Regions from separate parts of the Homo sapiens genome. Here region 1 is reported to be linked to region 2. The links are microRNA targets in miRTarBase. Many come from high-throughput screens and were not tested one by one. Region 2 holds a microRNA gene; the other region holds the end of a gene's coding sequence.
Evidence for each region. Region 2 holds the annotated microRNA hsa-miR-7158-5p (GGCUCAAUCUCUGGUCCUGCAGCC, at 9,190-9,213, opposite strand). A microRNA usually pairs through its seed, bases 2 to 8, with sites in the 3' UTR of a target mRNA and lowers its output. Matches are read on the target gene's strand: a 7mer-m8 pairs with bases 2 to 8, a 7mer-A1 pairs with bases 2 to 7 and ends in A, and an 8mer does both.

Region 1: the mRNA of ZZZ3 is a reported target of hsa-miR-7158-5p. Seed matches in the 3' UTR shown: 7mer-A1 at 9,633-9,639.

Annotation. Positions count from the first base shown.
Region 1 is chr1:77,553,825-77,566,250 of GRCh38, forward strand. It overlaps ZZZ3 (zinc finger ZZ-type containing 3), which reads right to left. Exons shown (of 15, transcript NM_015534.6): 14 at 12,257-12,357; 15 at 8,592-11,960. The coding sequence ends at 11,816. AK5 (adenylate kinase 5) reads left to right here. Exons shown (of 14, transcript NM_174858.3): 14 at 4,778-6,142. The coding sequence ends at 4,846. Among named protein-coding and RNA genes, the nearest start is that of ZZZ3, 120 kb to the right of the region's middle. RefSeq lists a silencer at 1-74.
Region 2 is chr2:5,966,262-5,983,874 of GRCh38, reverse strand. It overlaps MIR7158 (microRNA 7158), which reads right to left and starts at 9,213; the gene lies at 9,143-9,213. SILC1 (sciatic injury induced lincRNA upregulator of SOX11) reads right to left here. Exons shown (of 2, transcript NR_026832.1): 2 at 3,657-15,289. LOC400940 (a long non-coding RNA gene) reads right to left here and starts at 1,897. Exons shown (of 3, transcript NR_026833.1): 1 at 1,803-1,897; 2 at 1,018-1,577. RefSeq lists enhancers at 2,390-3,136, 7,612-8,265, 9,145-9,646.

The DNA.
Region 1 (12,426 bases), not on the chromosome of region 2:
CCCTCCTCCCAGCGTTTGATAAGGCGAGCTCAGGTGACTGTATAGTGGGCTGTGGGCAGAAACAGATTTGCTGAAAAGAGATGAGGAAGGCAGACATCCCAAGGCATGTTTGGAACATTCGGGTTAAATGCAGCATAGCATTATTCAGCAATAAAAAGGAATACAGTATTGATATCCACTACAACATAAACGAACCTTGAAAACATTATGCCAAGAAACCAGTCACAAAAGACCATATATTGTGTGATTTCATTGATATAAAATGTCCTGAGTAGGCAAATCTATGGCGACACCTCATTCCAACCTATTTTTCCAGCTTCCTCTTTTTATCTGCCTGCCCCCATCACCCCATGCAGCATTTGCTCTGTCCTCAACAAATGACCCACTGTTCACTGAAAAATCTATGTGCTTTCAGATCTCTACACCTTTGCCACCTTTATTATCTTCCAGTACATGTCTATTCTTCTAGGCCGAGCTTAACTGGCAACACCAAACTAAACTGAACAATCCTGACACCTGCTGAGAGGAGCTCATCCCCACTAAAAAGTGAGCTCAGATTTGGAATAGCATAGAACATCCAGGCTGGAACCAGACCTGGAGGTTATCTAGTCCTAGTTCAGTCCCTTCATATGATAGAGGAGGAAACTGAGGCCCCAAGAGGATGAATGGCCTGTCAAGTCCTGAAGCACACTGAGGGCAATCCCAGGCACGCCTCATACAGGGCTCTTTGCCTTGCACTTCAACCTTTCTGCAGTTTTTTTGTTTTATTTGGGTTTTGTTTTTGTTTTTGTTTTTGTTTGAGACGGAGTCTCACTCTGTTGCCCAGGCTGGAGTGCAGTGGCGCGATCTCAGCTCACTGTCAGCTCCACCTCCCGGGTTCACGCCATTCTCCTGCCTGAGCCTCCCGAGTAGCTGGGACTACAGGCGCCCGCCACCATGCCCGGCTATTTTTTTTTTTTTTTTTTGTATTTTTAGTAGAGACGGGGTTTCGCCATGTTAGCCGGGATGGTCTCTATCTCCTGACCTCGTGATCCACCCGCCTTGGCCTCCCAAAGTGCTGGGATTACAGGCGTGAGCCACCATGCCCAGCCTCTGCGGTTATTTTTGATGGAACAAATATTTATCAAATATTTGCTGTGTACCCATATTTTATGATGTCAGCCCATTCCTTAAAAACTCTTACATGGGCTGGGCACCTGTAATCCCAGCACTTTGGGAGGCTGAGGTAGGCAGATTACTTGAGGCCAGGAGTTCAAGATCAGCCTGGCCAACATGGTGAAACCCCATCTCTACTAAAAAGACAAATGGCCAGGCATGGTGGCACACACCTATAATCCCAGCTACTCGGGAGGCTGAGGCAGGAGAATCGCCTGAACTTGGGAGGCAGAGGTTGCAGTGAGCTGAGATCGTGCCACTGCACTCCAGCCTGGGTGACAGAGCAAGACCCTGTTTTAAAAAACAAAAAACAAACAAAAAAACAATTCTTACGTGGTTCCTCATTATCGTCATGCAATAGGGTACATAAGCCTCTTCATAGCCTAGCCTGTCCCTACAATTCCAGCTTCACTCCTTGCTACTCCCCCTCATATCTGGCCATCCACCATTTTGAACTGGTCAGCATAGTGTAATGTAGTCAACACGTGCAAAGACTTCAGAATCAAAGGCCTGGGTGTGAACCAGTTCTCTCCACTTACTTAACCACATTATCTTGAAAAAATTTAATTCATCTTTCAGAGCCCCTGTTTCATCATCTGTAAAACTGGGATAACAATACTTCTAAGATCATTGATAGGATTACTTTGGTTATTTAAAAAGCATTCCTGTGCCATTACTAGTAATATTTATCATTTTAAATGATGACAATTATTACTTTCCTCAGAAAGCTTCTCTGCCCTCCCCACATTATGGAAGGTGCCCTTATAGCTCCTGTGCTTATCTCCTAACAGTGTAAATTCCTGTTGAATGTTCATCTCTACCACTGAGCGTGAGCTCTTGGAAAACAGGACCATTGTTTCTCGTTCAACTTGGTTAACTGCAAAACATTGATGATAACCAGGAAATGCTTGTTGGTTGAAAGGAAAAGAAGAAAGAAGTAAAGCAATAAGCAAGGTGCTGTGGGGGCCATGAACATGGCAAAGGCAAAGCCCCTACCATCCAGATGTAGAACCTGTAGCTGGACAGACAAATTGCAGATTGCTATCTTTGAGTCTCCTGTAAGGATGAAGTATATTTATGAGAGGGGAAAAAGAACTTTAAAAAAACTTATTTTTTCCTTATTGTGGGCTATATCATACATACAGGAATGCATAAAAGTAGTATGTAGAGTTTGAGGAATAAAATGAACACTCATGTAACCACCATGCAGGAAAAGAAATAGAAGAGAGTTGCAGAAGCTCCACCCTCCCCATATGTCTCCCCTGTCACAGCTTCCTTCCTCTCCCCAAGAAGTAACTCATGTCCTGGATTTCGTGATAATCATTTCCTTGCTTCTCTTTATGACTTTATTGCCTATGTATGGATCCCTAACCAATATAGCTTTGTTTTTGAACCTTATATAAACTGAACCATACTGTATTCATATTCTTGAGACTGGCTTGTGTCTCTCAAGTTTGTGAAATTAATCCATGTTGTTGAAGATAGCTGTGGTTCTTTTTCTTTTAATTACTATAGTATTCCATTATATGACTATGTCACAATTTATCCATCTATTGCTAATGGACATACAGGATTTTTCCAGTTGGGGAACGACAAACAGTGCTTCCGTTAATATTGTTGTATCCATTTTCTCCACTATCTGAACATGCAGCATTCTTTTTGTTGATATTGTTGAGAATTCACTCTACCTCTGGAAGCAGTGAAAGCCCTAGGGGAAGAAAAATTCAAACTAGTTTGCACAAAGAAGATTTAAATAGGTAGACAAGAGTCTCAAAGTGTGCTTGTAAATGTGTGTTTGAAAACTTTGTGTTTCTCAAAGTGTGCTCCAAGATGGCCCACAACAAAATCATGTGGAGAATTTGTTAAATATACAGATTAAAGACCCAGCCCAAACCCACCAACCAAGACCCTCTGCAGTTATGGCCTGGAAAGCTGTGTTTTAGCAAGCTTACCACCGCCCGCCCCCCACATGACTCATGTAGATCACCAACCCTCTACCTTTTTTTTTTCCTTTTTTCGTTTGTTAGCATTTAGTTAAGCTCCCTCCTTGTGGCTTGAAGCCACCAGAACACAGCCTCCCTACCTCCCCCCACATATACACCCTTAATCTTCTCCCAGCTCTCCTGCCGAAGAACTTGGCCTTCGTGACAGCAGGCTACTTTGGGAGTTTCCCTTCCTCAGAATTCTGCAGTAGCCCATAGCACTCCATCAATGATGGGAGCAGCTCCAGCCTGTTTTATTTATTATTATTTTTTTTTGTCAGCGTGTGATTACTCATGTCTCCTGACTGACCAAGGTCCACATTTGTCAAGGTCAAGAGTTGGGCAGAAGCTCTGGTTTCTCTTTAAGAGGTAATGCCTCATAACCAACTTTACCAAAGTAACCTGGGTGACACTCATGGAAGTTGATGCATACCACCAGCATTTCCCTGGCCTCCCAGGTGCTTCCCGTGCTTGGCCAGGCCTTTACTTTCTGTAGATGATACAGGTGTAATGGAACAAATCTCAGCGGTGGGTGCGTTAGGAGAGGAGAAGGGGCAGTACTTTCGTGCCCAGAAAATCAGCTTCCCTTCATATGTCCTCCTTGGGCTAGCATGCCAACAGTCTCCAAGCGGACTCTACCTTAGCACACCTACACACTGCGGTCCTAGTCTTTTGCTTTCTTCTCCACATCTCTCTCCCTCATCCCTCAATCTCTCCCCTATTCCCAAATGCTGCAGAACACTCAGAAGTCTCATTTTAAGTAACTCCGAAGTCTTTCCATGACCCCTAGCAATGTTTTACCTAAATAGGCACTTATTGTTTTAAATAGACTTTCCTTTTTAGAGAAGTCTTAGCTTCACTGCAGAATTGGGCATAGAGTTCCCATATACTAGTTACACTGCTCTAAAAATCCTGTGCTCTACCTACTCATCCCACCCCCCACCGCCCTCTGTTCATCGATCATTGATCTTTTTAAACCTGCCTCCAGTTTTGACTTTTCCAGAATGTCATATAATTGGAACCATACAATATGTACCCTCTTCAGAGGAGCTTGTATCACTGAGTAATATATATTTAAGTTTAGTGCTGAATAATATTCCCCTGTCCATCTGGATATATCAGTTTATCCATCCATTAAAATACTGAAGATCATCCTGGGTGCTTCCAAGTTTTGTCAATTATGCATGAAGTTGCTGTCAACATCCATATGCAGGTTTTTGGGTAGATGTTCAGGTTTCAGCTCATTTGGGTAAACACCAAGAAGTGCAATTGCTAAAAAGTATGGTAAGAGTATGTTCAGTTTAAGAAACTGCAGTGTCTTCTGAAGTGGGTGTACCATTTTGTGTTCCCACAAGCAATGAGTGAGAGTTCCTATTGCTCCATGTCCTCACCAGCATTTGGCGGTGTCAGTGCTTTGGATTTTGGCTATTCTAATAGATGTGTAGTGGTACTTCATTGTTTTTTTAATTGAGACACCTAGTTTTAAAACTACTCTTCACTTTTTTCTCTGTGTTTTGGGGGGGGTCTTGTGTTTTAAAATTTTGCAGAGCAAATTATGAGCAAGTGATAGTGTTCTTTCATTATTAAACATGATTTACAGATATTTCAGACTAACTCTCTTTTTTTCCTTTTAAATATAGATAAATGCAGAGGGAACACCAGAGGACGTTTTTCTTCAACTCTGCACAGCTATTGACTCTATTTTCTGAAGGCAAAAATGCATGTTTGTTAGAATGGAAACAGAAAAACATTAAAAAGTTCATTCCTTAACACAATGTTTCAAGTTAAACCTTTTGTGTCACCGCCCCCACCAACCACCACCTCCTAAATCCTGACAGCACTGTTTGCTTCCCAGCTAGACCTGTGTGAGAGGTGTCTGGAAATCATGCATGGTGTATTTGGGACTATATCAACCTATTCTCCACACTTCAGACAACTGTCTGCACTCACGGCACACACACTTTGTATCATGCAGGCCACACTCAGAGCTAGTCAGTACATGAACAGTGGTGCGGTGCCAGTCTGTGTCCGTTGTGATCACAGGCCTTGCTAGACCCTGATCATCTGGTTCTCCTCTCATTAAGCATCCCTAACCCCCAGTCACACCTTCCTCTTACATACTGTTCCCCAATGGAGGCCCCTGGCATAGGGGACAGCCCTGGGCATCTTCCTTTGGTGTCTGGCTGTTTTGTCAACTCTCATCCACTGGTGGCTCAGAGCCATAAGGTGGGTTGATTACACAATGCCTTGTACATGATATAGAGGCATCAAGCAAGTAAAATTTGACAGAAATTTTAAAATATGAAGATGTATAGCTTTCCCAAGATGATGGTAAAACCCAGGTTAGTCATCAGTAACCTTCTCTATTATTATTATTTTTTAGAAACTTGGAATACTGTCGTCATGGCTAAGAGAACAAATCTGATAAATTGTGTAACCTAGTCTCTTCTCTACATGGTGATGCATTTCAGCAATTATAAATTAATATAAATGACCAAAAGTAACTTAAAAGCATGAGATATTTGCTATTTCATTCATTGGGCACATATCAAATTATAATTTTGATTTTAAATGGTCACCCATGTATTTATTTGTTGCCAAGCAAGTAAAAAAATACCCTAACAAACCTGATGTGGGTGGGAGGGGCATGTCAGTAAGTGGTGTGTTCAATGTGTTTGTTTCATATGGGCCCTTTCCAGGAGTTTGCAAACCTTGTCATACCCATATGCAAAACTGTGTTTCCTTGCATTAAACCAGTGAAGTTTGGGTTCTCTTTTGTGCTATCAATCAGTTGTAAAATCAGAGCTGCTTATATATTCTACTGGAATAACTGCATCTTCCACTCAGTCACTACAAAAAAGCATAGTTTCAGTTTGCATGAATTTTTTTTTTTTTCTTCAATGGCTGTGCAGATAAGGATCCATTTCTGGGATAGAATTGTATTTTTTAAGTCATTTTTTTTTCTTGAAATGGATATGTACAAATAAAATAAATGGAAGACAGGATAACTCTTTTTCTATTTATTTGTAACTCACATCATTCTGGAAAGCATTTGAAGCCTTATTCCAAACAGAATTAGAAGCGAACACAGAAATAGTCAAGATGATTTACGATACGCTTATATGGTTTTAATTTTAGCTATAGATCAGTTTTGAGTTATTACAGAGAGAACTCAATGTATTCATGATACATGGTAACTGTCATATTTCCTCTTTCTCTAGCACTCATTCTGAAACAGAAATGTTAGTGTTTGCTAAAGAAGAAATTAAATTTCTTTGGTTACAGTTACGCCTCTATTAACAAAAAGGGGCATGTTCCCATAACTCCCAACAGTTGTCAAATACTTTAATACTACCCCAAGTTGTCACACTCTCTATCGGGGAGCATAATAAGTACCTGAGCAAACTGGAAAAAAAAAAGGTTACAGGATGAAAATCATCAGTTGTGCCAGAAAACATAAAATGACTCTTTGTAGGGATTGACATTCTTGAAACACATACCATATACTGGCAGACACAGTCCATGCCCAGCACAGCTCTGACTGCACAGGTAAGGAAAATGAGACAGCAGAGGGGCAGAAAGGTCCAGCCATCTTTTACAGGCTTCTACGGCTGTAGCTGACAGCCACCTTGAAAAATTTAGCAAGGGTAAATGGCTTTGCCCCTGAAGAGTATCTAGAAGTGCAAATCAACTCTTCTCTAGAACACATTACTGATTTGAATGGCTTGAAATGATATCACTACTTTAAAGTCATAAGATTTTAATACTGGAAAAGACCTTAGAGGTCTCTGTCTAGCGAAAGACCTGTGTGTATGTAGAAGACATCAGAACACAATCTAAACTCCTTTACAATGATGTGTTTTCAAGGCCACATCTGAGCTGGCTTGTGCCCTCTTCGACGCCATCAACTACTACTCTCCTCTTGCTCATTTGGCTTAAGCTACTCTGGCCATCTTAATGTTGCCAGAACAAGCCACGGTCTACTGGCTCAGGGCCCGTGTGCTACTGCTATCCTTCTGCCCCTTCCTACAGATTATTCATGCAGCAAATTCCCTTGCTCTATTCTGGTTTCTATTTGAATTTACCCTGGCCAATAGAGGATTTCTTTGCTTATTCCATCTAAAATGGCAGACTATTCCCCATTCTCCCATTATTATTTTTCTCTGAGCATTACTTATCTTCAAAGCATTTATCCCTGCCTGAATTGAAGTAATAGTTTTTATTTACTTACTTATTGCTGGTCTTCTGCATTAGATTATAACCTCCATAAGGACACGGCTTGGTATCTCCAGTCCCACACACAGTAATTATTATTGAGAGCTAACATATTTAACATACTCTCTGCACCTCCAGTTTTCTCATGTATACAATGGAGAACATAATAGTAATGAACCTCATAGAGGAACTGAGGATTAAACAAAAGTTAGTAAGACACACGAATCATTTACTAGCTCCTAATGTGCAATGAAAGGTAGTTCTTTGTCAACACTTACTGAGTGCTTCACTTCCACAACTGGGACTAAGACCCAGAATTTTCACTCCAGTGTCCTTTCCATTACCTTGCTTTTTTTTTTTTTTTTTTTTGAGACAGCGTTCTCCCCCAGGCTATTATGCCATGGCACCATCTCGGCTTACTGCAGCCTCAACGTCCCAAGTTCAGGTGATTCCCCCAAACTCAGCCTCCCGAGTAGCTGAGACTACAGCCACGTGCCACCATGCCCATTTGTTTGTATTTTAAGTAAAGACAGGGTTTTGCCATGTTGCCCAGGCTGGTCTCAAACTCCTGGGCTCAAGCAATCTACCTGCCTCGGCTTCCCAAAGTGTTGGGATTACAGACGTGAGCCACCATGCCCAGCCCCATTACACTACTCTTAAAAACATGGAAGAGAATCAAGATACACAGCCTATCTAGGGTCCCACAGAGAACCAAAACCACCTCTGCCACCCAGGGTTGAATCACAGCCTTTGGGTAAGATAGAGTCCAATTCCCCTGTCCTCTCACAGAACTGTCAAGATGACCTTCTGATGCAAGGCCTCTAAGGATCTCACAGACACACTCAATCATAGGTGGTGTCTCTCAAGTTCCTGGAGGAAAAAAATGTAAACTCACCAAAATGTTGGTCATACAACCAACACATATTTATTGAGAATCTATTAAATGCCAGGCCCTAGAGATACAGACAGACATGGATCGTCTCTGTTCTCATGGAGCTAAATGTATTATAACTCTGAAAACTCTAGTTAACTAGCTACATTAACTGTAGAAAAAAAAAGTTGTATCTTTTTTCTGGGATCATATAAATAGAAGAACATTTTTCATCAAGAAATAAAAACAGTTTACAGCCTAAACAGAACAATGTCTTCATAAGCTTGTGGAAAACCCTACTGAAATCTGAAGACTTCCAATCCCATCCAGTGCATCTATAGATGAACAACAGGCTTCAAACTTCAATATCCACAATAAGAAATAGTTTTATATAGCACACAACACATATTTATGATTGAAAAAGACATTTCACAAAACAATATTTATCTTTATTACATGTGATGTACCATTTTCTCTATTCCATTTTTTCAAATGTTCATACCTAGTAAATTTTTGTGTTCTGTGAATCAATTTAAACAAAAAGGGGAAGGGGGGAAAACAGACAAGGCATACTATTAGGTTAAGTGAGAAGCACCCAACATGCATAGAAGAAAATCCTACCCAAGGCAGGAAACACAAGCCTTAGTCCCAGCTTTGCCTGAGACTTTGCAAGCCTGGACATATGCTCAGGTTTGTACTCTTAGGAAGCACACCACATCAGGAAAACAGAATGTAAGGCAACATCTGCACACCTCCACTCCTAACACCTAGTGTTGCCTGACACAAGGGGAAATTCCTGCTCAGGAAACAGGATAGTAAGGCAGACGCTGACTCTGAAGTAATCTGCCTAGGTTAAAATCCAAGCATGACCACTTTACTAACTATACGACCTTGGGCAGGTTAATTAACTTCTCTCTGGCGAGATTTCCTCATATGACAACAGGATAATAAATGACCCTGCCTCATAGAGTTGTTAAGAATTAGTTATCATATGCTTGCTTGGCACATAGTAAACACTGTATCAGTGTTTTCTATTATTATGCATCACACAAAAGGAAACCTCCTCTACCTAAATCTTACAACAATGGTTTTAGATATTAAAAGTTTCTTAAGATGTGCAAATAACTTGAGCACAATATATCAGGAAATAGATCTTATCTACTGAATACCACTGAATAAGCAATGCTTTAGCAAGTAGGTCTTTTACAGTCTGTTTTAGCTTACAGTCCAATAATTCTATGTAGGCAGATGGTAGCCTACCGGCAAATGACAGCTCTGCCCATTATTCCTGCAACTCTCAAATTAAAACAATAACAAAACACTACCTACTACTATCTGAACTTCAGGGCCTTTTAAAGCCATGGGGGCTGTTTCCTTGGAGCTGAAAAATGCAAAACAAACACATCTTCTGCTCAAGCCGAAAAATCTTCTTAACTCAAAAATCTCAAAAAATGTTTGCCCTAGAAAAATGCATTCAAATGGTTTGTCTATTCCATTTATATAACAATTGTATCACTCATATCCCTCTTCCAAAGCATACATCATACTTTATGGAATTTTTGAATGGATCTGAATGGCTTTCCAAAACTAACTGGTATTATTTCTACACAAACATAGAAGTTACCATCAAGCATTACTATCTTGCCTAATTACAAGTTGAAGGCAGATCTTCTGGCATATTCACAAAACATTTAATATAAAAACGCCCAGAATGCTAATGATTCCCCTCTTCACCCACTAATAATTCCAGGGTGAGAAGTTAAGCTCAAGTCCATTTACTTTCCTTCTGTTATGATATATTATATCTATATCATCAGTGATCTTTAATCAATATATTACTTTAAAATTCTCATATTTCTATATTTAAAATTCTATTACTTTTCTCAATTAAAAAAAATTCAGGGTATGATTTTAGTACCCTGCTATGTACTGAAGAGAACTAGTAAATAATGTTCCCTTGATTTAAAATAGGAAAAAACAGGTGATTCTAAAAATTGGGTCAAATATAACAATCAATCTTAGAATATTTATACTATCTTTTCCTATAGTTAATAGTAATTTCCAGGAAACAAGGTGATTTTTCAAAAGCCATCTGTTTAAATACATGGGGGCTTATCTTCATGAGACACAACTAGAAAAAAAATTTTCAACTTTAGTTTTCACACCTGAGCATTAATAATTGCCTTTTTCTTTAACCATGGTCCGTGTTTCCTTTTTGTAAGCTAGTTTAATTTAGTGTTTCAGCACACACTGAGTAAAAATCTTTACCATTTTTTACAGGGTTGCTTAAGATCACCCTCTTTTCCATAATACATTCCTTATTCTTCATAAATGACAGAAAGAAAACTCTTAAATATGTGAAGCAAACCATTTTAAAAAATACCAATTTCTGGTTTTAACACTGGTAAAAAAAAAAATCCAAAATCTAACCAAAAGGAAGTCACAACAAGCATTCTATAATATAAACAGACAGTATCCACATAGTTTATTTCTCACAGTTCTCCTGACAAATGAACATCATTCAAGAACATACTGTATACACAGATAAGAAGAAACATACAAAATGTTTTAAATGATGCACAACAAAATCCAGCAGTATAAAAGAATGCATGTGAACCCTTGCTCACTGTGCAGACTAAATTTAATCACTTGTTTAAATAGTAATAAAAATACAATCTTTTATGGATCTTGTGCAGACTACAAAAGAGGGAAATTATTACCATATATATGATTTTTATATTAGGCAGTTTTCTTTGATGAGTTGTACTGACAACTCCAAATACAGAGGCAGAAGGCTGTGTATTTTAAAGGAATTAATGTTGTGAATTAGAAACTTTACACAGTTACTACCACTGGCACTTTTCACCATAGTTTGTACACATCACATGATCATCTTATATAACATTACATTTAAAAAATATATCTGAGTGACAATTTTATAACATTCACACACCATGAGCTGGTTAAGGAAGCAATGCCACAGTTGCCTCCTGTAGTGCTTCACTGTTGGTAATTAAGGACAATTCATTGTGGTTAAAAGAAATTAGATATCAATATGATTAAGCAGCTCCAATTTACTAAAGGCCATCAATGACCACCACTGGGACAGTGAGTTCTTTTAAAGTGTATATCCTAGAAGCAAACACCATCATTGGTTAAAACTTTGTCTAAAGAAGTCAGTTTCTGTGCTGAAAACTATTTTCACAAAACTGAAGGCTACTAAACTGTTTTAATATAAATACTTTGTCTTCTCATTATCATATTTATGACCAAGTTCTTTGAAACCTTTGGAATTTACTCTCTCTTTAATGTGTGCTCTCGTTCCATCTCACCCATTTAAGATCACCACCTAAAACGCAGTGGTGAAAAATTCACCAGGGAAACCTTTGCTCACCAGGAATGTTCAGCTGCTGAACAGTGATCTAGAGCCACAACGGTGCAGAGCTGTACTTGACGAGAACACTCAGGAAGCTCTCATGCTGTGAGTGTCATTTCTGGGAAAGCAGAGAATCTTTCCAAACTGTGCACATAATTAACAATGATACCATTGCTATGTGTTGAAGAGGACTAGTAAATGATGTTCTCTTCCATGTCATCTGTTTGCTGGAAAGTAGTTTGGGTCAAGGTAATTGTAACTGGTGCCCTGAGACACACAGTAGTCTCTGTCTAAGAATGTCTCTGACCTATAAATAGGTTCTAATTGGTGATCTTCCTTGTGAATATCTGTTTCATGTAGACTGTAAAGAAAAAAAGACACACATCATTACATGGTAGTGGATGCATTTTAGTCTGTGTATTACAAAGCTTCCTCACAGCTCTCCCTGTTTAAATCCATTAATCTATCAAAATCTCCAACGGAAAGTTACTTGACATGTGGTATGATTACAGAAAAAAATTAATTGCCTAGAACAACAAAATTTAATTCACTAAGTGTGGGTATTAATATTTTCTATGTTTGGAAATCAAATTCACTAATGGCTGAGAAGCTCTTTTCTTGTCTAAGTTGAAGACTGACAATGAAGAAAACACTTACCAGTCTGAACAAGAATCACAGAAATCCAAAGACATTTCTGGAGGACAATCCTGGCAATGCCACCGAACACCCTGGATGGGTTCTATGCCACAGTTATCACACTATAACAGATTCAGAGAGAAAATGTATTAAGTTATACTGTTCCACGATCTTTTTTATTTTCCACAAGG
Region 2 (17,613 bases):
CACTCAGCGCTTCTAATTTCCACATGTAAACAGAGTCAGTGGAAAGCGCTTATTATCTAACGCTGTACTATCTGAAATTCCCTCTATTATTCTATGGGGCCATGTTGATCAGGACCACCCCTGAATGTAAATGATGCAGTCAGAGGCCTTGCAGTCCTGGGGCCAGGGCGGCATTTTATGTGTGCATAAACACACAGGACGTCCTGCCTACAAACCATTTTGTCCCCAGGGCTAAATATTTAAGTGTCCTCATGGTAATGATCAGAGATAAGACTTTTACCTTGCTGTGATTACAAAAGGGAGTATACATTTGCATCTATTAATAATCACCACCCTTATAAACAGCAACAACAACTTTGAATTTTTCTTGCATATTCATTTAACCTGTACTGAATGCCCATTGTGTGCTTGTACTCACTGGATTTTGTACCATATTATTCTACCCTTATACATACATGTGTAATGTGTGATGTTCATTCTCCTTTGAGGATTTTGGCACTAAAAGCTTTCCTCTATTGGGAAAAATGTGAAAATATTCCTTTGCATCCAGAGTCAACCCATTTGGAAATAGGAGCAAAGCTTCCACAGACTCCATTTTTTCTTTCTATCAAATATCCTTTGTGAGATAAAGCTCCAAGGATGGAAATTAGCCGCTTCTGTCCTGAGAATCTTCCCAACCCTATTCTTTCAAAGGATTGTCCATAAGGCTCTGGGACCACCACAATGCGGACACGCACGGCTGGCTGACGGCCTCGCTTCAATAGAAAGCCTTTTAAAACCTGCTCCCATGGTCCTGAAAAAGACTCTCTTCTTGGGGGCTTAGGCCCCGGGGAAAGGGAGCCAGGGCTCCGGAACTGCTCAGCGCAGCTCACGAACTGTTTTCGTCCACATCTGAGAAGACTCCAAAGCACTAAAAATGATGAGGGGAATTTAAAAATCATGTTTGTTCAAGGGATGGGGGGAAGGAAAGGAACAGAAGACGGAGGCAGGGGAAGAAATTTATAGCAAAAAGGTTACCTCGGCTATTTCTCCACTCTGGGGGTCATCCTAGAAACGTCCCTCCTCCAGACATGGGGGTGGTGCCAGTTGCCAATAATCCTCTCTTCCCGGAAAATAAAAACCAAGCGGTTAGCAAATGTCAAGATAAAAAAGAAAATCAGCTGAACAAGGGAACAGCCAGGATGGGCTGCTCGATGGGCGCCGGCCACGGGAGCCCCAGGTGCAATCAACAGCTCTTTAAGACTGCAGGTCATCATTTCTCTGCTTTGAAAAACCCAGCCATCTCTTGGAGAGTCAAATCGATTAGAGGCCACCTTTTGTGAAAGTGATGCTATTATTGTGGTTGTAATTTATGCAAAGACATTCTGTGGCACACGATGATTAAATTATAGTATAGAAGACAGGATTTCTATAGCGTGTTCCCTCCTCTGGATTTTGCACTTTTATCTACATTCGAATCAGGTCTGTGAAAATTTGGTGCACATGCTTTTCATTCTGGATGACAGAACATTTCCACATGTTTCTGTGTATTTTTGAAGTGGAGAGAACGGTACCGCCACTTGGAGATCCAACTGAGCCTACGAGGCAAAGGCAATGTGATTCTTTTATAAAAAGAAAAGCAGACAGAAAGGGTTATTTCCTGACACTCTTTAGGGGTGAAGCTGTGCAGGTAAAATAAAATAATAAATAAAATACACTGAAAACATAAAAGCATTGTGACTTAGCTCCCTGAACGTCAGAGACATCACCATACAGGATTGCATGTGCAGAAAGGAGACCCAAGGTTAAGATTTGCTTCTTACCTAGACAACACCTCAGCATCCTGCCTTGTGGCCATAACTAGAAAGGAGCTTCCTCTGTCTCCACGTCAGCCACCATTTTAGTGTGGTCTCTGGATACGGTAAGATGGAGGCAGACAGAGAGAAAGCCTGAGGGGCTCCCTCTGCACACGCTCAGCTGTGCCCCGCAGCCCCAGCGCCTCTCCCTAGGTGATGCATTATTCACCAGCCCCCTTCAGCTGAGTCAGGAGGAGCTGAGACAGGACAGCGCCGCGGCGAAAACGCAGACGATGACAAAGCCTGCTTTACCGACGGTCCCGGGGTATTGCAGGGAAAGGCAGCCCCCCTCCAAGGCATTACAATGTGGGCTTTTAATGGGCTATTTGCTATCTAGAAATATTTATGATGCAGCCGCTATTCGTGTGGGGTTGCTTCCTCCCTGGGCTAGCTGCCTTTTCCTCTCTCTCTCCAAATATACAGCCCTCATGAAAAATCTCTCCGGGGATCACAGGATGCTGCCGGCAGCTGGGGAGGCTCTTGCTGGGGCCGACGGGAGCCTGTGTGGCAGGGTGGCTTCTCCCTCCACCCCCTTCAGCCCTTCCAGCACCCTCGGTGCCTGCCCTCTGGATCCTTAACAAAGAAGAACCCTGCCTCCTTCAGCGCCTGAAGCCGGGGGAGGTGCAGGTTGAGCTGGGAAGAAATGGGGAGCAGGGTCCGGGCTGTTTCAGACCTTCATGGAGGACCCAGGGAAAGAAGAGCCCCCAGAGGGATTCGTGGACACAGCGTGACCTGCGGGCCCCTGGGCTGCGCCTGCCGTCCATCATGTCAGGAGGAGGAGAAGGAGAGCACGAGGCGTGTGTGTGTGTGTGTGTGTGTGTGTGTGTGTGTGTGTGTGTGTGTGTTTAAAGAATGTTAATTCATACTGAGATCCTAGGGAATATTTTCCTAACTAGGACAGACTTGGGAATAAATAACGTGCTTATATAGCTGGGTCTCCCCTCCCCTTCCTTTCTCCCACTCACTTAACACACACACACGTGTGCGCACATAGACACACGCACACACGTGCACACACATTGCTAGTTACTAAAGCTAGCCTGTGGGGCAAGGAAAAGCTGACCTTGAGAAATGCAGTTTTCAATTCCAGCTGAAGCCCACGTGAGGAGCCTGTGCCTGGCACTCCAGACAGACTGCATACGTTAGGTGGGCCACAGGCAGGCACATCCCACACGTGGACTTGGGCGAGGTGCCCTAATGTGGCAGCTGAGGAGCAATAGAGGGACCCAGGTGGAACCATTTCCACAGGCCTGGAGTGTGCACTGCAAGTCTCCAGCCTTGACAAAGATCATGGGTGTGCTGAGGTTTCTCATCCACCCGAGCCTCTGTCTACACACACAGAGTGCCTGGGAGCTGAGAAGTGTGTTTATTCTGCTCCTTTCCTCCCTCATAAATGACTGCTACCAGCACTTGGAGGAAAAGCCCAAGCTGTGTCTGAGTGAATGGAAGCAGAGTGGGCAGGCCGGCCTCACTAGCCAAGTCCAAGCCGCGACCGCGTGTGTAAGTGATTTCCATGATCTCATTCCTTAACCCTTTTTGAGATGATCCTTCTCTTCCCGAGTGCACTTAGGGAAGGCAGGTAAAATCATCTGCTTTCCTGTCTCTTTCCTTGATCTGGCTCTATCAGAGAAAGAAAGAACTGTTAGGACGCATCCAAGAGAAAAGATACCTGATCAAATTATTTCAATGAAAGAAATCCAGTTATAAGATATAAATATATACATTCGAATTCTATTATAAACATGAAAGTGTCTGTGTGGGTGCGTATCTGTAGAAAATACAAGAAGAATACATATCAACACGGAAGCAGTAATACCTCTTGGTAGTGTGATAATTATATTTGATTTTTCATACTTTTTAATTTTTTCTCAAGCAAGATATGAGTTATTATTGCTTCAACAATCAGAAAACAATTAGCTTAAAGAAACAGACAATCTGAACAGTTACCATACACATTAGCAAAGACACTGTTTAAAGTTCCACTCAAGTACCCCAGTGTTCTCAGCAGGCTTTCTATCTTCTCATTGTATTTATTCCAGTTTTCATTTTAACTCAACCCAGTGTCTTTTCTGGGCTGTGAAGATACTCGTGGTGTAAACTGCTAGTGATTCTCAGTGACTGCACTTTGCTTATGTCTTATTATATAGGAATATATGACCTCAATATTTAGCTGGGCATGTGGTCATCAGAGAGTGCAACGCTTTCCAGCACTTTTGCAGATGGGTGTGGCTTAGTGACTAAGTCCCAGCCCATCAAATATGAGCTGAGGTGATGTGTGCAACTTTAGTGTTATCAGAAGAGGCAGATCACCCAGACCTTTCCTTCTTCTCTTCTTTATGTCTGAAATCCAGCCAAAGCAGAAAGCCATTAATAACAGGACTACACTGCAACTCCATAGCTACCTGCAGGCTGACTTGCTGGAGAGCTCTGACTGAGGCTGGATGGGGAGGGGCTGCCACCCAGGACCATTCTCTCCCCAAGTTTGGCATCCAGGGGACAACTGGGTCTCTTTGTCAGCTACTTCTGGGCCTTGGGGCCAGATAGACAAACGAGTCTCCTACAAAGTCCAAGGGGCTCCTCTCTGTAACACGTTTTGAGTTTTTTGAAATTGCCCAAGAATTCCCTCACTAATAGATTACTACTTAGGAATCTTCATTTTTGGTTCTGTGTGCCATAACATACCCCGTTCTCTTTTCCCATTATTATCCTCCCCAAAACAACCACTGCCAGCCCCCTTATAAATTGTGGGAAGTGGGTGAATGTTCCCCTTTCCAAAGCTCTTGGAGCTTGTCTCTGAAATGCTTTCCTACTCAATGTCAGGAAATCAGATGTCGGTATTTACCTCAGCCTGGAATCTCCTTCCCAAGCCACCCTCCTGGGTGTGCCCTGGGCCAACACAATGATTCAGGTTACAAGGTCTGCAATAAGCTTCTGGTAACAGGACATTGTTCTGCGGTAACTGGCTATCTGGGACCTGTTAAAGGATACCCATGCTTGTTTCTCTGGAAGATTCCAGAGCTCTTCACTTCCATAATGGGTCCCCACCCAAGACTAGAAAAGCCAAGTGAAATCTCCTATCTGAATCTCTTGCTTTTGCTCTTGATGAAGAGCCATCCTTTTTTCCTCCTCCTCTCCCTTCCGTATCACCACTGTTTAGGAATATCTATAAGGAGTTCAAATCCAGTTATGCAAACCTTTGGGTTGAGGATGTCCCAGCTTTGCCCTGGCCACACCCATTCTAGGGAGGCCAAGCCATGCCTCCAGCTTCACATCTCACTGTCCAGAGCCTCCACATCCATGTCACATTTCTGCTCTGAGAACAATGCAGAAATACCACCCCTCCCCAGAGGGATTTAGGTAGGTGGCTTGCACCATCTGTCATCATCAACATGATCCAAAACCTGTTTTAAGTCATTAAAAATTTCTCTGAGTCATGGTCGTCAAAGATTCTCTTTGAGTACACAAATGTCCTAAATGTGGAGCCCTGTGACACACCATCATGTGACATTTTCTGTGGCCTCAGATACTGACCACTGATGCAACTTCCCAGTAGGATGTCTCAGTTAAGGCTCAAATCTCTATCCTCAGCCCAGGCCTCTCAGTTGTGGAAAACACCTTGGATTTGGGTGAATTAGTCATTTCCACAAAGGCAGTGGCTTCATTCCCGTAGCCACTATGGATCTCGTGCCTTGGGTGACAAGTCCTCATTCCTTGTCCCCAGGCATTCTGGCAACGTGGACCCCAGTGCCATTCATCTCCACTCTGGATGAAAGCTGTGGTTTCTTAGAAGTTCACATGTGGAAATGGGGCCTCAGTATCAGCCTCCACATCCTTCCTTCTTCAGGAAAATTCATCTTATGGGCAAATTCCAAATAACTTCAGAATCCACCAGAAGAATTATGCTTGGCCATGGTTACTCCCAGTTGAATAAAATCAGATCCTAATTTGTCTTCAACCTCCTGGCTGCAAATTTATCTCAATCATGTTTTCAGCCATTCCTCCTGGACTTGAACACAATTCCCAAAGATTCCGTAGAGTCCAAACATCAAAGGAAATGTTCTCTGTTCTTCAGCTCCAACTGTTCCCACAGAAGTACTCTCCATCCCTTTTAGATAAGCTGACTGAGCTGTTTGGACACAGGGACATGTCATCACTGTCCCCAAAGCCGTGACACTCAGTGTCCAGGGTCCTCACATTTTTCATGACCTCTATGTGCATGGGGCTGTCTTATCCCAGAGACTTGGGGTACAACCTCCACAACACCATCAACAACAAGAACATCCTCTGCATCCCCATGCCCTAGCTGTCCTTATCTCTCATCATGGAAAACTTCACACCATGACTTCTCCCTCTACTGGCAGTGTCCAGCATGCTTCCTCTCAGAAAACCCAGGCTTTCACAGATAATGGTTTGCCTTGTCTCCTAGTGGCCTAGACACTACTGCTTTTGGTCCTATCACCCAAAAACGTGAGCAAAATCTACAAAGGCAAGAGAGCACACACTCTTGGCCACAAAAGAGGGAGAAAAACATAACAGTGTCTCAGGATCTTGTTTTTCCCATGTGGTTATTAGCATTGCATCTGTATTTAGTCCATACGCTCTTGGTAAAAGAGCCTATGTTTGCTCTACTTTAACTCTGTTAACAGAAGTACAAATGTTGAAGAATGTGGCATCCATGAGTGCAGGAGGCCAGTGGGGGTGTGAGACGGTTGGGACTGGGTTGGTTATCTCTTGTCTATTTTTCACGTGAGAGTAATTTACATGATATTGGTTTGTGTTTTGACTTCTCAGGAGCTATCTTCTATCTGGAGTCTCATATTAGGTGAGATTGCTGCATGAAGGCAATACTTCTTTACAGAGTTTGCTGGCCACTGGTGAGCTAGACTACTTCTCTTCCTTTAGCTAGGATTGCATTTCTATTATTTTCAGAAATCAACAAAGTTTAAGACAGTAAGATCTCAGCATATAATCTCAATTCTTGTCATCAAATTATCTTACATCACTTATAAGATTCACCTCAATATTGTATCTAAATTTTCTCCTCTGAAAGCAGATGCCTTTTCTGCACAACAAAATGTTGACCTAGGCCTTACCTTGATAAAAGCTACCTCAAGCACCCTGAGGGCATTAGGAGGTGCAATAGGGACAATAAAGCTTGCTAATGTGATTGTGGGTGGCCTGGCAACTGGAGTGATGATGGGGAAAGCCTGGAAATCATTCCCTTCTGAGACCAGACAGCCTAAGCCGAAACCAGAGAAATGCATCACATACAAAGGAGGCAGCAGAGCTGTCTTCATAAATCGCAGCCTGTAGGCCTTTTAATGTGTCAGCGTAACCCGCCGTTAACGATATTTAATTGCTATCTACAGTAAGTTCCGTAGATCATTACCATACCAGTCATTTTTCAAAGATCCTCGTTAGCACAGGACTAGTGAACACAATAAACGATGTGACAGGAGATGGCTAGAGAAATGCTGCAGAGAATGAGCTCATGTAAGTCAGCCAGCTCATAGAGGAAACCCCCTATCTTTCTACTGGCACCATAATAAAATCCACCATGCACACTGGGCTATTTCCACTGCAGTGCATAAGACAAGAGAAATGGGTCACTATTGTGCTCCTGCTGGTTTCCTCTCCACCAATGCAGCTTGTTCCCTCACATAGTAAGGTGATGTCCACAATGCCTGGCTAGAACAGAAAAGATCTGACAACACCGATGTCCACACCTGAAGTGCCTGAAAATAGCACCTTCCTATGAACATTTAAGTTGGCAATCCATCCATTTGGGAGGTACATGTGTACTGTGAACCTACCCAGAACCAGGCACTTTGCTAAGGCATTGAGATTCAAGGTCAAGGGAGGCACAGTCCCCATGGACCTTGCAGCCGGGGACACAGCTAATGGACAGGAGACATTCATAGTCCAACTCACTTGCTTTATTTCAGTGACTTTATTTTCCATTTTGTTATTACCTTCTTTTTCAAGTCTCCTGTTGGAATTTGGATTATGTTACTTTATTTTTTCCTTTAAAATGCTTTTTGAATGATCAAAGGCCCATTTTAATCCCTCTATTGTCTGCAGCTCCTTAGAGGTGAATTCTCCTTTTACAGAGTCTGTTTGCCCTCAAGGTGATGAGTCTCCACAGGTGCTGGGGGCACACCTTCCTTAGGAATCATTCTCCCATGGAGTCTCAGAAATGCCTTGAGCTCTGCAGGCATCTTCACTGGAGCAATGATTTTTATGCTGGGCTTGAGACTTTTGGGTTGCAAGCTGTTCCACATCAGCTTTTACCTTAAATTCTTGCTCAGATTTTCCAAACAGCAAAGACAGTGTGAATGGAGGCCCCTTACACCAGCCACAGTTGGCGTTCTGACTCCTCTGTGTGACTCCTATCCCACACCAGGCCCAGTCCCAGCATTAGCTTTTGTGATGCATTCCTTGGTACAGAAGGCTAAGCATCGCTAATTTCTATTCAGAGACACAGGGACTCTACCCTTGTTCCTGGCTTTATAAAGCTGCTCAGTTCTAATGTGCACTGCACACAACAGCTGCCAGGGCCACAAACACCCCCAAGCAGACGTTAGGCTCTCAACCCCTAAGATACAGTTTTCCTCTCAATAGCTCATAAGACTCTGCCCTCTGACGTGAGAAAATAGAATTCTGTTGTGCTTTTTAAGTATGCCTATGGCATCTTTTAAAATATACCATATATGATCCAGTATTTCTTTGTGTTTGGAGTGTGAATCTGCAGGTGAAAGAGTGTGTTCTACACGTGCCCGATCCATCCTCATTACACAAATTCACCCTCTACTTTAAAACAGGGAATTTGGGCCTTTGACAGGAAAGAAGCCGGACAGTCATGGGGCCAAACTGGAATCAAATGTAAATATTTAATTTCCTCCTGTTAAAAGCAGAGTGGACCCACAGTCCCTCCCAAAGTAAAATGCACAATAATGTGTCAAGAGCCCTGGACTTATTGCTTCTCGGACGTTAGCAAAGATCAAGCGCAGACCACTGGCTTTGGGGTCTGATACCCCAGGAGAGTCCCGGTTTCGTGCTCATGTGTTATGTGACCCTTGACCCCTCGTTCAATTCTCACGTGCTTCACTCTCCTAAGCCATGCAAAAGGGACATAAGGATATCTCCTGAAAGCAGAGTCGGCTGGAAGGCTGGAAGGCTTATGTGAAGCAGTTGCATATCACTTAGCACTTAGAATGGGCAAATAAAAAATGGTTTAGCTTCTCCTTTGTGGGAACAGAGACTGGGATGGTTTGTATCCTGGCTCTCCTGAAACTGCGCTGCCGAGCTGGGCCCAATCTCTAGTTCAGCTCGCTTCAGAAAGCCAAAGGCAGAAGGCTGCAGGACCAGAGATTGAGCCTGGCCACACAGCCCCTTCTTCCTGATGCCACATGGCTGGTGATCCTGGTCACAGCCTGCCTGAGCTGGTGGAACACAGCTTTGTCGGACTGTTGAAGATAACCCTACAGAAAAATCACCTGGTGAAGGGCAAATGCGCATGTTTTGTCATAAGACCAACTGGGTTTCCTAAATCAGCCAAGCCGTTTATCCTGTGGTCTTGGCAACAGGCTGACCTTCCTTTTACAGAGGAGATGGTGATGCCTGGTCCCAGAGGAGCGCTGTGAGCACCCAGGCATGGATTACAGTGCTTAGCACAAAGTAACATTAAATGTGAATCTCTCTTCTAAAACTATGTTACAAAAAGCAGTAATTCATTCCAAGCAAGACTGTCAGTTTAGGTGAATCAAGTAATCATAATTTCTCTAAAACCTTTTTTCTACTGTAAAAGCTTTAATTTTTGTCTTTATTTTTATTGATACATCTTAGATGTGCATATTTTGGGAGTACATATGATAATTCAACACATTCATATAATCAAATCAGCATAATTGGGATATTTGTCACCTTAAATATTGATCTTTTCTTGATGCTATGAGCATTAGGTTAATGGGTACAAATGTACAGTTAGATAAAAAGAATAAGACCTGGTCTTCAATACATCATGGTGGCTATAGTTAACATTAACCATTGTACATTTCAAAATGCTAGAAGAGAATAATTCCAACACGTTTTTTGTTTGCTTACTTTTTTCTGAATTCTAATAGACTGATACATCAGTCCCTGCTGTAGCGAAAATAATGACTTCCTCAAAATGCACTTCAAGAATGTGACCTCAATGGATGTAACAGAAAGAACCTGCTCTTGGTGTTTGGGAAAGAAAAGGTGTTAGGCCCGCCACAATTCCTTCTCCTCCCAGGTGATTCAGAGTCCTGGAGGACAGAATACCTTGGGAACTTGAGTGAACTCCTTTCACCAGCCCAGCCTTGACTCAGATTCCAGCTCATATAGCTCACAAGCTCCACTGCCCAGGCCAAACCCCTCAAATGCTTAGGTTTTGTTTGTTTATTTGAAAGAGTTTTGCTCTTGTTGCCCAGGCTGGAGTGCAATGGCGCAATCTTGGCTCACTGCAACCTCCGCCTCCTGGGTTCAAGCGATTCTCCTGCATTAGCCTCCCGGGTAGCTGAGATTACAAGTACCCACCACCACGCCCGGCTAATTTTTTGTGTGTTTTTAGTAGAGACGGGGTCTCACCATGGTGGCCAGGCTGGTCTCAAACTCCTGACCTCAGGTGATCCGCCTGCCTCGGCCTCCCAAAGTGTTGGGATTACAGGCGTGAGCCACCACGCTCGGTCTAATGGTCAGGTTTTTATTCCTGTATATGTCAAGTAAGGACAATAAGAATTACTTCAAAGTGTTGTTAGGAGCTAATGCATGTAAAGCATTTATAAGAATTTTTGGCACCCAGCAGATGCTCAGAAACTTTTAGCTCATAATATTAGCATTGCTATAAAAATAACATTAATAAAAACCAACAACATTACTACCGTGAGAAAGTCATAATAATATACATCAAAGGATATTAATAATATACAATGACTTTCCCATATGCCATTTGTATGGCCAGAAAGCCAGACACAACTCCTGACTTCCTCCTGCGATTCAGACGACATTGCTTGGATGCAAACTTACCTGAAAGAACCACTTAATAGGTTTGTCACTCTAAGCAAATACTAGTGTTCAAGAAATGTTCTCAGGTGATCTAAAACACAGTCCAGAATACCTGCTTATGGCTTTTCAAATGTTTGCAATACAAGGCCTGCCTCTGTGCTCAGCTCCCAGAGAGAATTTTTCTAATAGATGCAGTTTTTCCTATTAGCAATGGAACATACACATTTGAAACCCAGCTGGCAGCCTCTATGATTGTAGGCTAAATCTCGTAAACAAAACTTAAATGTAAAGAAGTGTTTGTACTAGCTGCAAATGGGCTACTGGTTTGATGCCACAGGGGAAGTTGTTAGCAGGTGACATCAGAGGATGGATTAGTTAGGGTAACATTGTGAACCGAGAGACAGGAGAGATCTTGTCACTCACTGAAGGCGAGACTCTTCTAGAGAGTTGTTTTCTCCCCAAGATCTGCGCCTTTCCCCAGACTGAGTCAGGATCTCCGAGGTTAGGACCTAGCTACGTATATTTTGCACAAAGAACTCTGATTTGGACTCCAGGATTTAGAACCACAAATGTGCATACAGACCCAATTTTGTACATGGGAGGTGAGGTCAGATAGATAAAGTAACTTGCCAGCAGTCACTCATCTCACTAGTGTCACAGCTAGAATTAGAACCTATGGACTTTTGGTCCCTGGTTTGCAGCAGTTTCTGTAACACTAGTGGATATGAAACAACATGAAACACAAAGAACTGAGTCCTCGGAGGTGTGCAGCCCAGCAAAACTGAGCCTCTGGGTGGGAGTGGAGGGCAGCCAGAAAGAAAGGCCTGCGGTGGGTCTCTGCGTCTTAGATTTAGGAGGTAACCCCCACTGCCAGATGGTTTAGGTGATGGTGGCCGTGTGGGAGTGTGGTGATGGCTGGGGAAAATGACAAAGGCAATTCCCTTATGATAGCTGCTGAGGAGAGCAGTTGACACAACCCTGCTGCCATTTTTGACTCTTTCTTCACGAGTTGAGGATAAGGGGATATAACCGCAGCCACCAGCATGGAGATTCCCTAGGTTCTTAAACTTACAGGTTATTAAGGACATAAAGGGGTCTTCATGTATTCTAATGCCCTAATTTCACAGGAGAAGAGACAGTCTCAGGGAAGGCAGGTGGCTTGTTCAGTTTCAATCAGCCAGCAACTGGCAGAGCTGAAACTAGAACTCAGGTCTTAGGGCTCCAGTTCTGTAACTCATCCATCACACAAAATAATTATAATAGCATGTGCCCATGTGGCCTGGACATGGCCTGTAGTCAGTGCCATAGATAGGGATGGATGAGACCCACTGCCTCTAAGGCATGCAGTCCTATTGGCTCCTTCCTGCAGCAGTCCCTGGACCACCAGGTTCAGAAACACCTGGGTCTGTGCTCACATGCAAAGTACTGGGCCTGCCCCAGATTTACTGACTCAGAGCCCCTGCAGGTGAGGCCAGGGAAACTGGCTCAGCAGGTGATACCTGGGTACTCCAACATCTGAGAAACCCCGAGATAAGACCTCCAAGTTCTGGGATATTGTGGGGCTCTGTTGAACAACAGAAGGTGTAACGTACAAGAAAGACTGACCTAAAAGTGGCATCAATTATTTCATTGAAGAATCATCAATTGAGTGCCTACTGGCTTATAGTGCCCACTGTTCACTATGCTGGGAACAGAAGTCAACAAGCCAACCACATTCCAGCTGTGAAGGAATGCATCCGGACAGCCATAGAAGGCCCTGGATGCCTGGTGCCTGGGCTGGGGTATGTGCCAGGTAAAGAAGGGTGTGGATGTCAGAGAAGAACAACTCTTGACAGTGCCCAGGAAGGGCAGCTGCTCCTCGGAAGCAGGGCTCATGGAGCCATGTTGCTATGGATACAAACAGTGTCTGGTTACTTATGGGAACACTATTGTTAGGATGGTTCTGAAATGCTTTTGTCCTGAAGGTGGAGAACTCACCAGACCAAATTACTCTTGGCTAAGGTGGTTAACCCTCTACTCATACGATGTCCTGGGGCAACAGTGCAACCTCAAAAAATATTAAATAAGACCAAACTATGGAGACAATAAAAAGATCAGTGGTTGTCAGGGGCTGAGGGAGCAAGGGGATGAAGGAGTAAGTATCAGTGGAGCACAGAGGATTTTAGGGCAGTGAAACTCGTCTGTATGATACTAAAATGGTGGAGTCATGTCATTATACATTTGTCCAAATGCCTGGAATGTACAACACCAAGAGTGAACCCTGGCGTCAACTATGAACTCATTGTGATGATGATGTGTCAGTGTAGGATCATCAATTATAAAAAGTGTACCACTCTGGGAAGAAATGTTGATAATGAGGGAGACATGTTTGTTGGAGAGGCAGGAAGAATATGGAAAATCTCTGTGCCTTCCACTCAGTTTTGCTAATAATAAAACTAATAATAATAAATAATATGAAATTATTAAATAATATTAATATTAAAATAATATTATTATAAACTAATAATAATAAAACTAATTTTTTTCTGACATCTCTGTCGTCCAGGCTGGAGTGCAGTGGTGCAATCATGGCTTACTCAATCGCCATCTCTTAGGCTCAATGGATCCTCCCACTTCAGCCTCCGAAGTAGCTGGGACTACAGGCATGCGCCACCACACCTGGCTATTTTTTTTTTTAATTTTTTAGAGACAGAGTCTCACTATGTTGCCCAAGCTGATCTTGAAATCTTGGCCTCAAATGATCCTCCCACTTCAGTCCTCAAAGCGTTGAGATGATAGGCATGACCCATGGTGCCTGACCTTAAAAAGTCTTTCAAAAAAAAATTAAATATTTCTAAACTGTTTTTTAAAATAAGTTGTCTCACGGTGTATAAAAGTTATACTATCAAAAGTCAACTTTTGGTAAATGAAGGCTGCCAGATTGATTAGAAATTAGAAGGGGTTTGTCACTGAATCTGGTAAACTCAGAGCAACCACCACCTCTCTCTAAGCCTCTAACCATCTGGATTAGGAAGGAGAGAGGTGGGCTGCTAGAATCCCTTTCTTCAAGCTCTGATGTTCCAAGACAAGGATAATTGCTGATGAGAAAAAAAAAATCAGAATCTCACAGACTGCAAAAGCAGAACAGCACAGTTTCCACAAAACCATACAAATGTACTTTTTGGAACATAAGAGCCAAGCACATGCAACAGCTTAGGGTCCGTAACTCAGCATATGTAAAGTTCGTAAATTAATGTAATAGGAGGCAGGGTAACATCTGTTCTGTAGTACCCAACAGAGGGGATTTGGATATTTGAGAAGAGGCTCTGCACATAGTAAAGTCAGCCTAGGAACATGTGAGCAGTATTTACAGTGAAAAGGTCCCCATCTCTAACTATACACATCTGCTCCAAGACAGCTGAGGCTGGCGGTGCAGACCCCACTGAAGGGAAAGCCCCTTCCGAGGAAGTGGCCTGCTAACAAATCAAAATGGAGCCATCTGCCCTTCCCACTGCATGCGCTCCACCAGCCACCTATTCGTGCTCACCAGCTGGCAGCCTGCCCTGGCCCCGGCATGTGCCTGCCCCCAGTGGGCAGGGCCATGACAAAGCCACTGCTGGTCACCATTAGTGGTCAAGTCTCATGGTGGGTTTATTGAAGAACGTTTGCTTAATTTTAGATCAAAGCAGTACTTTCTTCTCCCTCTGGAAAAAACAAAACACACAAATAGTATATTGGAGCAACGAAGAACATAATCAAGTTTATGTATGGGCCACTACGAAACTGAATAGTTACCTCCTACTTAAAAGGGTATCCTGGGCCACGGTGAAGCGGTCCTTTTATCCTGTGGTCTGCAGTGGAAATGGCAGCATTACTGGAGAAGAGCTGTAAAAACATGCACAGTGAGTTGCTGCCGCATCCTGATGGCCCAAGAGAGGGAAGGAGGAGGAGATGAGAAGGGTTGAATCGGTTCTCTGACATGCCAGAGAGATAAAGGGGTGTCTCCCAAAGCTCTGAGGGCTTTTAAAAACTGGATGTCCACTGATATTTCAAAACAGTGCTGGGTATCCATAATTACAAAGGCAGGTCACAGGGGTCCAGAGTTGAAATCTCTGCTTTTGGATGCCACAGATGAGCCTTCTCAGCAGGCTTGGCAAACATCTTCACAGCCACCATGACACGTGATAGGATTCGGGGACCACAAAAGGAAAGAGCTAAGTTTTGAGGCTGAAGACCAAATTGGTTAAAAATATGGTCACTCTCAGGGTCAGTAAGAGAGAATTAAGTAAAAAAAAAAAATCTTTGAATACAGGGAGCAAATCAGTAGATATAACATGGAATGGCACAGGCCATCAGGCAATCCTAAGGCAGAGGTAGATTCATCTTCAAGTGGCTTCCTCCAGCCTGACACCTGAAAAAGTGCAACTGCCTCTCATTTGCTCTTTCTCCTGTTTATCAAAAGGGAAGAAAAGAAGAAAAAGAAAATGTTAGTAGCTGAAAACATGTCAACACTATTCTGGGCATTTCCCTAAGTTATATAATTGAATATTCACAACTCCCTCTGATGTGTAGATATTAATATAATTATTTGCATTTTACCAATGAACTCTGGTAAAATGTAAGCTATGAAATACATCCAGAGATACTATGTGATGTGCTCAAAGACAAACAGCTAACAGGCAGCAAACCCAGGCTTCAAGCAAGTTCTATCTGAAACCTTTTTCCCTCTTCCCTAAGGCATATTAAATTGATGTTGGGCTTCCCATTTATCTTGTTTCATGAAAGAATGGTCTAAGCCCATGGCTTCTTCCCTATCCAAAAGAAAGTAAACAGTCATGAGACCAAGATCCCCTGGAATCTCCCCAAAGGTAAGTCAAAGCTCTGTGTATTCCAAGCTCCTTTGCTGCCAGGTCCCGGCGATCGTGGGATGGGGATTCTGTCTCTGAGCCAGGTCCCGGCGATCGTGGGATGGGGATTCTGTCTCTGAGCTCCACTTATTTAAATCTTACCAGATTAAAGGTCTGACTCCGGTAAACTCATCTCCATGACCTTGCCTTTTAAAAAATTGATTTTATTTTTTAGAACAGTTTTATATTTTAAAAATGTAGAGAAGGAGCTCCCCACTGTGGAAAAGTGGTAAGCAAGAGATCCCTAGTGGTTCACGTTCGCACCAAGGACTCTTTCAACCCTAGCCGTAGGTGAGCCCCTTGGCCCTCGTGGGCCCTTAGACTGGTATAGAAAGCTGCCTGCAGTCTATGTGATGGCATTGTCTCAGGGAGAGACTTTGCACTGGATGCCAAACACCCCCAAGACCCAAATAACTGCAACATGATGCCATTCTGAGAGCCCAGTCCACACCAGACTACATCCCGCCCTGGGGACCAACAGCACCTGCACCTCCACAAACCTTAAGCCCCACTGACATTCCCCTACATCCACCCAGAGGGCTGCAGCATTGCAATGCTGGCTGGACACAGTGGCGCATCTGGAGCAACAGCACTCTAACCCACACAGTGTCCTACACTCTGGAAAATGGGTGGTGCAGTGCAGCAGGAGGCTGCCTTGGGGACAAAGGAAGTGTGTACTCCCCAGAGTCTGAGAGCTGACTGCCAGGGACCACTGCCACTGACAGCAACACAATCTCCTCCAGTGGCAGGGTGATCACATACCTGAATGTACCTTTAGCTGACTTTGATACCAGCCCACCCACAAGCCATCCACCACAGGCATCTGTGCAAGGCACATGGGAGCCATGGGTTGGCCCACCACCACCACTGCCACTACCAATGCCATGCACACCACCCAGGGGCCCAAGGACTGGCACCCCCAACCCACCAATGACATCACTGGTGCCCAAGGACCAGCCCTCCTGGAGCCCCTGTCCACAGGAAAGTCTTGCCACAGCCTCCAATAACAACTGCCACCTAAGCCACTGAGGAATTCACAGACATCACTGATGTTGATCACAGTTAAAGAAATCATGCAGAGACCACACTTCTACACCCACCCAGAGTACAAGTGAAAGCACCCTGCCCAATGCACATTGTAGATGTATCTTTATAAAAAAAATTCCTTATGAAAGATTTTCATCCAATACGTAACATTGGACAAAATGACTGGTACACCAGTTGTGCAGATATCAACATAAAGACACAAAAAATAAAAAGCAAGAAAACATGACACCTCCAAAGAAACACAATAATTCTCCAGTAACAGATCTCAAAGAAAAGGAAATCTATGAAATGCCTAAAAATATCAAAATAATGATATTAAAAATTGGTAAAATAAAGAGAACATGGGTAAACACTACAAATAAATTGGAAAGAAAATTATAACTTGATTGAAAAGTTCAGCAGATATAGAAATCATTTAAAAACACACACACAAAAAGTCCTGGAACTGAAGAATACAATAAATGAAACATTTTAAAATACAATCAAGAGCATCAAGCACAATACACTGCATTAAGCAGAAGAAATTTTTGAACTTGAAGACAGGTCTCTTGAAATAACTCAGTCAGACAAAAAATAAAAATAAAAGAATAAGAAAGAATGAAAAGAGAATGCAAGACATATGGGACATCAAAAAGTGGCCAAATATTTAAATTTTGGGTGTTCCAGAATAAGAAATGGGTAAAGGCATAGAGAACTTACACACACACACACACACACACACAAAAGCAAAGCTATACTTTAAAAGTGAAAGGGAAATAAAGTTGTTCCTAAACAAGCAAAAAAAGATAACTCATTCCCACTAGACCAACCCTGCAAGA